Linked DNA regions of Homo sapiens. The protein of the gene in region 3 purifies or fractionates together with the protein of the main gene of each other region. This does not show direct contact. Each region holds a gene or a part of one and is shown on either strand. Other genes may lie near its edges. The genes, in order: SNAP29, SPECC1L and PPFIBP2.

The links.
Region 1: the proteins of PPFIBP2 (region 3) and SNAP29 purify together in Homo sapiens (co-immunoprecipitation; 2 studies listed by BioGRID and IntAct, with this or other methods). This does not show direct contact.
Region 2: the proteins of PPFIBP2 (region 3) and SPECC1L purify together in Homo sapiens (affinity purification with mass spectrometry; one large-scale study listed by BioGRID and IntAct). This does not show direct contact.

Annotation. Positions count from the first base shown.
Region 1 is NC_000022.11:20,875,935-20,879,585, reverse strand, and holds part of SNAP29 (synaptosomal-associated protein 29), read right to left. Parts: intron 1-3,651. UniProt on the Homo sapiens protein: SNAREs, soluble N-ethylmaleimide-sensitive factor-attachment protein receptors, are essential proteins for fusion of cellular membranes.
Region 2 is NC_000022.11:24,319,301-24,322,951, forward strand, and holds part of SPECC1L (cytospin-A), read left to right. Parts: intron 1-1,987; coding exon 1,988-3,618; intron 3,619-3,651. UniProt on the Homo sapiens protein: Involved in cytokinesis and spindle organization. May play a role in actin cytoskeleton organization and microtubule stabilization and hence required for proper cell adhesion and migration.
Region 3 is NC_000011.10:7,639,414-7,643,064, reverse strand, and holds part of PPFIBP2 (liprin-beta-2), read right to left. Parts: intron 3,334-3,651; coding exon 3,195-3,333; intron 2,033-3,194; coding exon of another isoform or gene 2,000-2,032; intron 1,587-1,999; coding exon 1,445-1,586; intron 768-1,444; coding exon 639-767; intron 1-638. UniProt on the Homo sapiens protein: May regulate the disassembly of focal adhesions. Did not bind receptor-like tyrosine phosphatases type 2A.

The DNA.
Region 1 (3,651 bases), on a different chromosome or scaffold from region 3:
GCATAAGCCACCATGCTTGGCCAATTCTTAAATTGTTTTTTCTTTTTGAGACAGAGTCTTGCTCTGTTGCCCAGGCTGGAGTGCAGTGGCGTGATCTCGATTTACTGCAACCTCCATCTCCCGGGTTCAAGCTATTCTTCTGCCTCAGCCTCCTGAGTAGCTGGGATTACAGGTGCCTACTCAAGTGATCCCCCTGCCTCAGCCTCCAAAAGTGCCAGGATTACAGCCATGCAGGCATGAGCCACTGTGTCCAGCCTATTACTTTTTTTTTTTTTTTTTGAGATGGAGTCTCACTCTGTTGCCCAGGCTGGAGTGCAGTGGCACGATCTCGGCTCACTGCAACCTCTGCTGACCAGGTTTACACCATTCTCCTGTCTCAGCCTCCTGAGTAGCTGGGACTACAGGCGCCCACTACCACGCCCGGCTAATTTTTTGTATTTTTAGTGGAGACGGGGTTTCACCGTGTTAGCCGGAATGGTCTCGATCTCCTGACCTCGTGATCCGCCCACCTTGGCCTCCCAAAGTGCTGGGATTACAGGCGTGAGCCACTGCACCCGGCCACTGTTTTTATATTTTAAATTTTGTCACTAAAAAGTTGTGAAAGTATGTTTTTTTCTCATCACGTAAGTCCCTATAAAATATCTTTGATTTTGCTCCGTGGCCTAGTTTGCTGACTCTGGCTGTAGACAGGGATAGCTCTTGCAACTCAAAGTCATTTAGACTATGCCTGATGCCCTGCTGATCCCCGACATCCTGCTGAGCCCCCTAAGGTATGGCAGGTGCCTCCAGCTGGGAGCTGTGCCTCCCCAACAGCCTGCTCTCCTCTATCTCAACAGCAGCCTGACCACTTCGCCAGCCAATCTGGGAATCAGGGTTACTCGCAATTTTTGCCCTCCCCCTGCACAGCGCTACTCCCAGTAATCCAGGCAAAACAAACGCCCTCTTGATCTCCCACCCCCTAAGTAGCCCAGAAACCCAGCCTCTCCTTCTGCCTTGCCTTTTTTTTTTGAGACATAGTCTCGCTCTGTCACCCAGGCTGGAGTGCAGTGGCGTGATCTCCACGCACTGCAAGCTCCGCCTCCTGGGTTCACGCCATTCTCCTGCCTCAGCCTCCCAAGTAGCTGGGACTACAGGCGCCCGCCACCACGCCCGGCTAATTTTTTGTATTTTTAGTACAGGGTTTTTGTATTTTATTTTGTATTTTGTATTTTAGAGACAGGGTTTCACTGTGTTAGCCAGGATGGTCTCGATCTCCTGACCTCATGATCTGCCCGCCTCGGCCTCCCAAAGTGCTGGGATTACAGGCTTGAGCCACCGTGCCCGGCCTGCCTTGCTTTTCTTTACCTTTAACAAGGATTATGGCAATGCCTCTCAATTCAATTCCCTCCCTTCCAATCCTTACTCCCCATGGGTGCTGCGCATCTTTCTAAAGCAATACTGGCAAGCACCTCTTCAGTTAAAGTCTTTAATGACTCCCAACTTGCAAGAGCAAGTCCAGACTCCCGCAAGCTAAGGGTTTTGCAGGCCCAGGGCTCCAGCTATGGGTAGAATGCAGCAGAGCCTGGTGAATGGAAGGATTTAACACTCCAGGATTTCACCCCACGGAAGCTGTGACTGAAAGTCTAGAACACAGAACTGGCTCCTCTAAGCACCACTGTGGGCAGTGCATTGCCATGCTGGGAGTAGGAAGAGACACTTGGCTTCTGAGTCTGCCTGGCCACCTTTCAGCCTGCACATCTCAACGCTGGCTTTATTCTTTCTATGTGCCATCACATATATACTGGTAATACATAAATGAGGAAAACAATGGTTTCTTTGTGAAAAATGGCTCCCCCACAAAGAAAGCCAATTTTTTTCTTTTTCTTTTTTTGAGACGGAGTCTAGCTCTGTCTCCCAGGCTGGAGTGCAGGGGCATGACCTCGGCTCACTGCAACCTCCACCTCCCTGGTTCAAGAGATTCTCCTGCTTCAGCCTCCTGAGTAGCTGGGATTATAGGTGAGCGCCACTACGCCCGGCTAATTTTTTTTTTTAGAGGGAGTTCTGCTCTTGTTGCCCAGGCTGGGGTACAATGGTGCGATCTTGGCTTACTGCAACCTCTGCCTCCCTGGTTCAAGCGATTCTCCTGCCTCAGCCTCCCAAGTAGCTGAGATTACAGGTGTGTGCCACCTTGCTTGGCTCATTTTGTATTTTTAGTAGAGACAGGGTTTCTCCATGTTGGTGAGGCTGGTCTCGAACTCCTGACCTCAGGTGATCCACCCTCCTTGGCCTCCCAAAGTGCTGGGATTACAGGCGTGAGCCACCGTGCCAGGCCTGATTTTTGTATTTTTAGTAGAGACAGGGTTTCATCATGTTGGCTAGGCTGGTCTTGAACACCTGACTTTGTGATCCGCCCACCTCAACCTCCAAAGTGCTGGGATTATAGGCGTGAGCCACCACGCTCAGCCAAGAAAGCCAATTTCTAGGGAGACTGAGAAAAGTGATAAGACAGTAGAGGTTTAAGAGAGGGTGGTTCCTGGTCAGAAACCAAGTCTTAAATAAGTTAGAGAATTTCAAATTAAGGGTGCATATGTGACAGGAACGCATGAGCTGTAAGTGGAAATGAGAACAAGCAGCTTGGAAAGCTGTCAGCAAGGACAAACAGGGCTTCCCAAGAGACAAAACTTCAGAGAAGGCCGAAGGGTTTGTGTGATAATGATGTACACAGGAAATGCATGACTGAACAGAAGTTTGATAGGAGAAACTTATTTTAAAAGCTTTTGAGGCCGAGGCGGGCAGATCACTAGGTCAGGAGATCGAGACCATCCTGGCTAACATGGTGAAACCCCATCTCTACTAAAAATACAAAAAAAATTTAGCCGGGCGTGGTGGCGGGTGCCTGTAGTCCCAGCTGCTTGGGAAGCTGAGGCAGGAGAATGGCGTGAACGTGGGAGACGGAGCTTGCAGTGAGCCGAGATCACGCCACTGCACTCCAGCCTGGGTGACAGAGCGAGATTCCATCTCAAAAAAAAAAAAAAAAAGCTTTTAAGTGGGCCAGGCACAGTGGCTCATGCCTGCAATCCTAGCACTTTGGGAGGCTGAGGCGGGAAGATCAGTTGAGCCCAGGTGGTTGAGATCAGCCTGGGAGACAAAGTGAGACCTTGTTTCTACAAAAAATACGAAAATTAGCAGTGCATGGTGGCCCATGCATGTAGTCCCAGCTACTTGGGAGGCAGAGGTGGGAGGGTTGCTGGATCCTGGGAGGTGGAGGATACAGTGAGCAGAGACTGCACCACTGCACTCCAGCCTGGGCGACAGAGCGAGACATTGTCTTAAAAAAAAAAAAAAAAAAAAGGCAAAGTTTTTAAGTGACAGTATTCCTGCATTTATGGATTAAAGGTTTTGACAGGATCACAAAAATTTTACTCACAATTTATTGCATTTTTTTTTTTTGAGATGGAGTCTCTGTCGCCCAGGCTGGACTGCAGTGGCTTGATCTTGGCTCACTGCAACCTCCACCTCCCGGGTTCATGCCATTCTCCTGCCTCAGCCTCCCAAGCAGCTGGGACTACAGGTGCCCACCATCACCCCTGGCTAATTTTTTGTATTTTTAGTAGAGACGGGGTTTCACCGTGTTAGCTAGGATGGTCTCGATCTCCTGACCTCGTGATCCGC
Region 2 (3,651 bases), on a different chromosome or scaffold from region 3:
CATAGTGGCAGGAAGGAGGAGAATGAGAGCCAAGCAAAGGGGAAGCCCCTTACCATCGGCTGTCATGAGAACTCACTATCACGAGAACAGCGTGAGGGTAACTGCTTCCATGATTAAATTACCTCCCAACAGGTCCCTCCCGAAACACATAGGGATTATGGGAACTACAGTTCAAGATGAGATTTGGGTGGGGACACAGCCAAACCATATCAGTATCCTCTAGATTAATTTTCATAAAATGTACTTTTCCTTACATTTCTTTCCTACTCAGGATCATTTATTGACTTAGTGTGACTCACTGAATTCTGCCTATCTTTTGGGACTCTATATGAACATTCCCCAGCAGCTTCCGTTAACTGTGTGACTGTACTTTTCCTTTCTGTGTGCCATGTTCACTTCTGCTTCCTTTCGTTGTCTGTCTTTTTGCCAGCCTGAATTCCGCATCCTCCTGTATACCTGTTCTGTTAGTGGCTATCTCCCTCTATCTGTGGAGATCATTTGCTCCCTGTTACCTCTACAGCCTGGATCCCACCACCTAATGAACCAGCAGGGTCTTTAAAAATACTTATTGATTAGATGTGGATCTTATTTTTTAACATAAAAATTTGTTATTTCTTAAGTATTTACAGGTATTTAAACATATTCCTGGCCAGGTGCGGTGGCTCACGCCTGTAAGTGCGGTGGCTCACGCCTGTAAATTCAGTGGCTCACGCCTGTAATCCCAGCACGCTGGGAGACCGACGCGGGCAGATCATTTGAGGTCAGGAGTTTGAGACCAGCCTGGCCAACATGGTGAAACCCTATCTCTACTAAAAATACAAAAAAATTAGCCAGGCATGGTGGCACGCTCCTGTAATCCCAGCTACTTGGGAGGCCTAGGAAGGAGAATCGCTTGAACCTGGGAGTCAGAGGTTGCAGTGAGCCGAAATCGCTCCACTGCACTATAGCCTGGGTGATGGTCAAGAGAGACTCCATCTCAAAAAAAACCAAAAAAACGAACAAAAAAAACTTCCTGTTCTTTTTGTATTAAACAAATGATTGTGTCAGTTTTCACAGGTTTAAAATTTTAGTAGTTAAGTAATCATGTGATTCACGTAGATTTGATTGACGCATCATCATTATTTAACATTAGTGCTTCGTTGTTTTTTACATTTAGAGAGACAGTATAACATACTGGTTAAGGTGCAAAATCTGGAACCAGACTGCCTGGGTTTCAATTTTGGCTCATCTATTTATTACCTGTGACATGTTGGCAAATTATTTAACATCTGTGTCTGAGTTTCTTCATCTGTAAAACAAGGTGATAATAGCACCTACCTCACGTCTTTAATGAGGCTTATATAAGTTAATGTATGTGAAGTGTTAATGTATTTGTATAACCAAGTGCTAGGTATGTGTTAGCTATTGTTATAATTGTTATTATTTATGTGGCATTTTATGGTGTTAAAACTATTTTGCATTTACTTTGGTCAGAGTAAAATTTTTGTGTTTCTAGTAGGTAGCTTAGATTTTTGGTTTTCCCAGAGACTGCTTTTCCCTTCTTGCCCACCTATGATCTCCCTTCACTATCTGTGTACAGTTAGTTTACCACCGACTGGCTAATCCTGGAGTCATCTTCACCTGTCTTGCCCTAGAATATTATGCCTCTGGCCAACTGGTTAAAACCCCACTTCTGGATTCAAGTTAATGTATATCATTTAAATAACAGCTTTGTAGAAATGTAATTCACATTCCATAAAATTTACTCTTTTAAAAACATGTAAAACAAAGTGTATAACTTATTTCTCCTTGATAATTAAAAGATGAATGATCTTCTGGTTTTGAAGAAATTGAACTTTAACAGACTCTAAGGCAAGATTATTGTAGATCTAAATCATTGTGTAGATCCTGGATTTCATCTCATTACACCTGGGGCAGGAACTGTGTATTCTATGTAGCCTTTTATTGCTGACATTTTTGCCTTACATTTTTTGTATTAAACACATAGGCACAGCTTCTTCAACCAAGCGGAGCACTTCTACAGGTAATAAAGAATCCAGTTCTACTAGAGAAAGATTACGTGAACGTACCCGATTAAACCAGAGCAAAAAACTACCTTCTGCAGGTCAGGGAGCTAATGACATGGCATTGGCCAAACGTTCCCGCAGTCGAACTGCTACAGAATGTGACGTTCGTATGAGCAAGTCTAAGTCAGACAATCAGATCAGTGACAGAGCTGCTTTGGAGGCCAAAGTGAAGGATCTTCTCACGCTGGCAAAAACCAAAGACGTAGAAATTTTACATTTGAGAAATGAACTGCGAGACATGCGTGCCCAGCTGGGCATTAATGAGGATCATTCTGAGGGTGATGAAAAATCTGAGAAGGAAACTATTATGGCTCACCAGCCGACTGATGTGGAGTCCACTTTATTGCAGTTGCAGGAACAGAATACTGCCATCCGTGAAGAACTCAACCAGCTGAAAAATGAAAACAGAATGTTAAAGGACAGGTTGAATGCATTGGGCTTTTCCCTAGAGCAGAGGTTAGACAATTCTGAAAAACTGTTTGGCTATCAGTCCCTGAGCCCAGAAATCACCCCTGGTAACCAGAGCGATGGAGGAGGAACTCTGACTTCTTCAGTGGAAGGCTCTGCCCCTGGCTCAGTGGAGGATCTCTTGAGTCAGGATGAAAATACACTAATGGACCATCAGCACAGTAACTCCATGGACAATTTAGACAGTGAGTGCAGTGAGGTCTACCAGCCCCTCACATCGAGCGATGATGCGCTGGATGCACCATCCTCCTCAGAGTCGGAAGGCATCCCCAGCATAGAGCGCTCCCGGAAGGGGAGCAGCGGGAATGCCAGTGAAGTGTCCGTGGCTTGCCTGACTGAACGGATACACCAGATGGAAGAGAACCAACACAGTACAAGTGAGGAACTCCAGGCAACCCTGCAAGAGCTAGCTGATTTACAGCAGATTACCCAGGAACTGAATAGTGAAAACGAAAGGCTTGGAGAAGAGAAGGTTATTCTGATGGAGTCTTTATGTCAGCAGAGCGATAAGTTGGAACACTTTAGTCGACAGATTGAATACTTCCGCTCTCTTCTAGATGAGCATCACATTTCTTATGTCATAGATGAAGATGTAAAAAGTGGGCGCTATATGGAATTAGAGCAACGTTACATGGACCTCGCTGAGAATGCCCGTTTTGAACGGGAGCAGCTTCTTGGTGTCCAGCAGCATTTAAGCAATACTTTGAAAATGGCAGAACAAGACAATAAGGAAGCTCAAGAAATGATAGGGGCACTCAAAGAACGCAGTCACCATATGGAGCGAATTATTGAGTCTGAGCAGAAAGGAAAAGCAGCCTTGGCAGCCACGTTAGAGGAATACAAAGCCACAGTGGCCAGTGACCAGATAGAGATGAATCGCCTGAAGGCTCAGCTGGAGAATGAAAAGCAGAAAGTGGCAGAGCTGTATTCTATCCATAACTCTGGAGACAAATCTGATATTCAGGACCTCCTGGAGAGTGTCAGGCTGGACAAAGAAAAAGCAGAGACTTTGGCTAGTAGCTTGCAGGAAGATCTGGCTCATACCCGAAATGATGCCAATCGATTACAGGATGCCATTGCTAAGGTATTGTTTAAATAGATTAAAATGTTCCGGACA
Region 3 (3,651 bases):
TCTACACATTCTCATGCTTCTTTTCAAGCTTCCTGGAGTCTGGGGATACTCATCGAAGAATAAATGGATCTGGAAAGGTCCCAGGTCTCATGCACGAGGAGGACCTGGTAAGACTAGAAACCTGTTTGGCAAGCCAGGGAAGTGCAGTATCATATCCATGTGCAAAATAAGCTAAGACTCCCTTCCGCAGGGGATGCAGGTCTGCAAACAATATGATGCATTTAGGGAAATGCTTTTCTTCCTTAATTGGAATCTAGACTATATTATTTCTGAGAACGGACATCTGAATGATACATATCATAACCAGTAATTACCTGTACTCTGCATTGGTATATGGCAATCTTGAGGTGACTAAACTGAAGAGAGTTACAGCTTACTTTTTGCCTTTTGGTTAGATATAAAATGTCACATTCCAATCCTGTGGAAGACCTCCAGGAGTACTGATCTTGGCTGAGTAACTCAGAACTTAGGAGATATTGTGCTGGAAATGACGTACTGTAGGGACTGCTTGACTGGGGAAGAGAATATGGAAAGGGGTTTCCGCAAAACACAGGAGTAAAGATTCACCCATGCAGGTTTGAAGGGAGATACTTCTTTTTCAGAGCAGGGAGATCAAAGGAAAGTGGGTCAAGCCTTACCTTTTCTGTCCCTTGGAGTCCCTGGTCCTAGAGAGTCTTGGCCCTGCGGTTGCCCGGAGCCCACCTCGTCGAAACTCTGCCATCCCCAGCGTGTCAGTGTAGAAATTTCCTGACTGAGTTCTTCGGATTCTGCATGGAGAAGAATCCATGGAGACGGTCATGGAATAGTCAGAAAGCCTACAGTCACTGTGCTTCCTCTTTTGCAAGGCCATGCAGGCCAGCACAGGGACTCTCGGCAGCACTGCTTCTCCGTACCTTCCCAGAGATCAAGGATCACAACCTGTCGCAGCTCCTTGGCCAGACTCAAGCCTCAATTCGGATCCTGCCTCTGGGATTTGGTCACTTGCCATAGAAGTCAAAGCAAAGTTTGATGCCTTGTAGGAGGCCCCAGTTTCTGCCTCATGTCACAAAGTGGATCAGTTGGGCCAGCAAGTACTTGGCTTTCAAAGGTTTTTCAAAGATTTCTTAAAACAGACTGACTCCTAAGAAGGGAGAATACAGTCTCATCTGTGTCTGTGCCAGATCCAATGTAATATAAGCTGCAGAGATTATGTTCAGGGTGTGTGGAATGGGTGGGTGCTTAGGATGCATGACATGAAAGGCAACTGGATATATTCAATGGGTGTCTTTCATACTTCTCCTTCTCTTGGCCCTGGAAAATATCTCAGATTCTTCTCTTTGAACATGAACACTCTGTTTTGACTGCTGTTTCAGTGTCTATTGGACCAGGGGCTTACATAGACTCTTTGCCCAATCAAAAAGAAAAATTCTAAGCAATATAATTAGGATCAACGGCACCAACTTACTTTCCCCAGAACTTCTTAATGCCTTTGGGATTCCGTTTACCATCTGGTGTCAGAGGAGACTGAGGACCTGATTCAGTGCCCGATGATGTGGATGAGAGGTCATTGACCACAGCAGTGTCGTCCCAGCCACTTTCTGTGTCTCCTGAGATTGGAAGAAGGCAATGAATGTGAATGTAAGGATGTGACCCCTGGAACCCTTCTTCCCCAAGCCTGGGCCCTCCCCTTCAGTGGGAGTCCAGAGAATCTGCCCAGTTCTGCCTTCAGGGCAGAACTCCATACCAAGATCCCAGAGACTAGTGGGGACTCCAGGCTTCCTTGCTGAGAAATTAGTGTGCTCAATATTTCAAATCTAGGTGAGCTAATGTCTTTAATTTTAAGGATTTGGGGTCCAAAGTACTTGTGGATTATTCCAACAAGCAGCTTCTTTTTCCTCAGAGGGAGATGCAGGAACGCAGGCAGTAGTGGGTCCCTGGCTGAGTGCTGGTGAAGGGGAGGGTTAGGGTAGGGAAACAAAGGCATTCTCACTCTCCACCTCACCTGGAATGGGTACAGTACCTAATACGGGGGCACTGACACTCCGGCCACGATCTCCAGTGAACCAAGAAGCAGAGAAGCCACATGAAGAAACAAGAGAGGCCAAAGTCCAGCCCAACAGAGTTACGGGGAAGCAAAGAAATAAACAAAAGAGTGTCATCGAGCAAGAGAGAAAAACTCAAACAGAAAGAAAAATAATCCCATGGAGAAGGAGGGGGTGAGTGGTGACTGACACTGAGAAGAGGTTTCATGTGAGGGGACCAAGTGTTCCTGGGGCCCCTTTGTGACAGGCTGAGGTGTCCACACCCAGGGAAAGGAAGGGACAGCAGCAGGGGCTGAATACTCCAGGCCACAGGCAGCTCTTGTGCAGGTGCCTGGGCTCACTCAGCTCAGACTAGAACAATCTGAAGCCATAGTGAGTCCAGTTTGAGTGTCACTAGAACACACTCATTCAAGGGTTTATCTGAAGTTCCTGCAGCCAACGGCAGAGCTGGCCTTCACTAGGCCAATGCATGGGCCAGCTCAGGGAAGAGCTGAGGCTGAGGAGCCTCAGGAAGAACCCTGCCAGGACCAGAATGTTCCCTTCCGGGGCCATTGAATCTTTTGCTGCTGGTGGGGAAAGATGGCTTATTTTGAATGAAAAGCAGCAAAAGCCTCTGTGGTTTCAGGTCTTACGCACCGAAAGGATACCTGCAGACCGACACCCTTGCCCATTGGCCACTGACTTCATTTGCCTAAGGAAATGCTCCCACTTGGAGTGCATGATACCCTCCTACGGGGAATAGGGAAGCTGCAGAGAAGAAGGTGGAGACAGGAGAGAGAAGATCAGAATGACAGAGGAAGGAAGCACCAGGGGCAGGAAGGGTAGAAGGGGGTGTCTGAGAGGAGGGAAAACAATGCTAGGAAGGACAGGAAAGAGTTCGAGAGGAGGAAGAGAAGAAGAGAGGAAATAAGGGTGAAAAGCTGCAGCCGAAAAGAAGTAGGGGATACACACACCCTGGTTTGCTGAGACTGTAGAGTGCTGACCTTAGAAAACAGCTCGCCCAGGGGGAGCCTCTGGGGAGGTGGGACCACCCCAAGGTACAACTTGTTCCAGCCACCCACCCCACCATTCTCCAATTGTGGATTGTGGTGGTAGGTGCAGGGATCTTATACAATCATTGAAAGTGCCAAGGACACTGCTCAGAGGCCACCAGCACCAGGGCTGGACACTCACTCAGCCTCAGCAGGCTGCTCCCCGTGGCGTCAGGCTGGCAGATGGTGGGAGGAGATTTGGCAGCCTCTCCATTGGGCGTGGCTCCTGAAAGCTTCCCAGGTAAAGTGGGATATTTGTGCTCCGCCAAGAAAGGGCTGTCCTATTGGAAGGTGAGAGAAAGAGAGAGATACCGACTTAACTGTCAGCCTCAGTTAGGAAATCCTTGGATACAGAACAACTCCCTGTTTTGCAAGAGCCATTTTTCACATATGGTGACTTGAACACCCCTCAAAGATTATTTAGCTAGTCCGAGAAAGGGGACCAGAGTTCCAAGGAAGGAAGAAACTTTCCCAAGGCCACACAGTAAGACAGGGACAGAGTCAAGTGCAAATCTGGGGCTGACTGAAACTGACTCTAACAGGAAGTGAAGCTGTCTTGCAAAGCGGCCTTTGCTGTCTGGCCTAGTGCTCAGAGACTC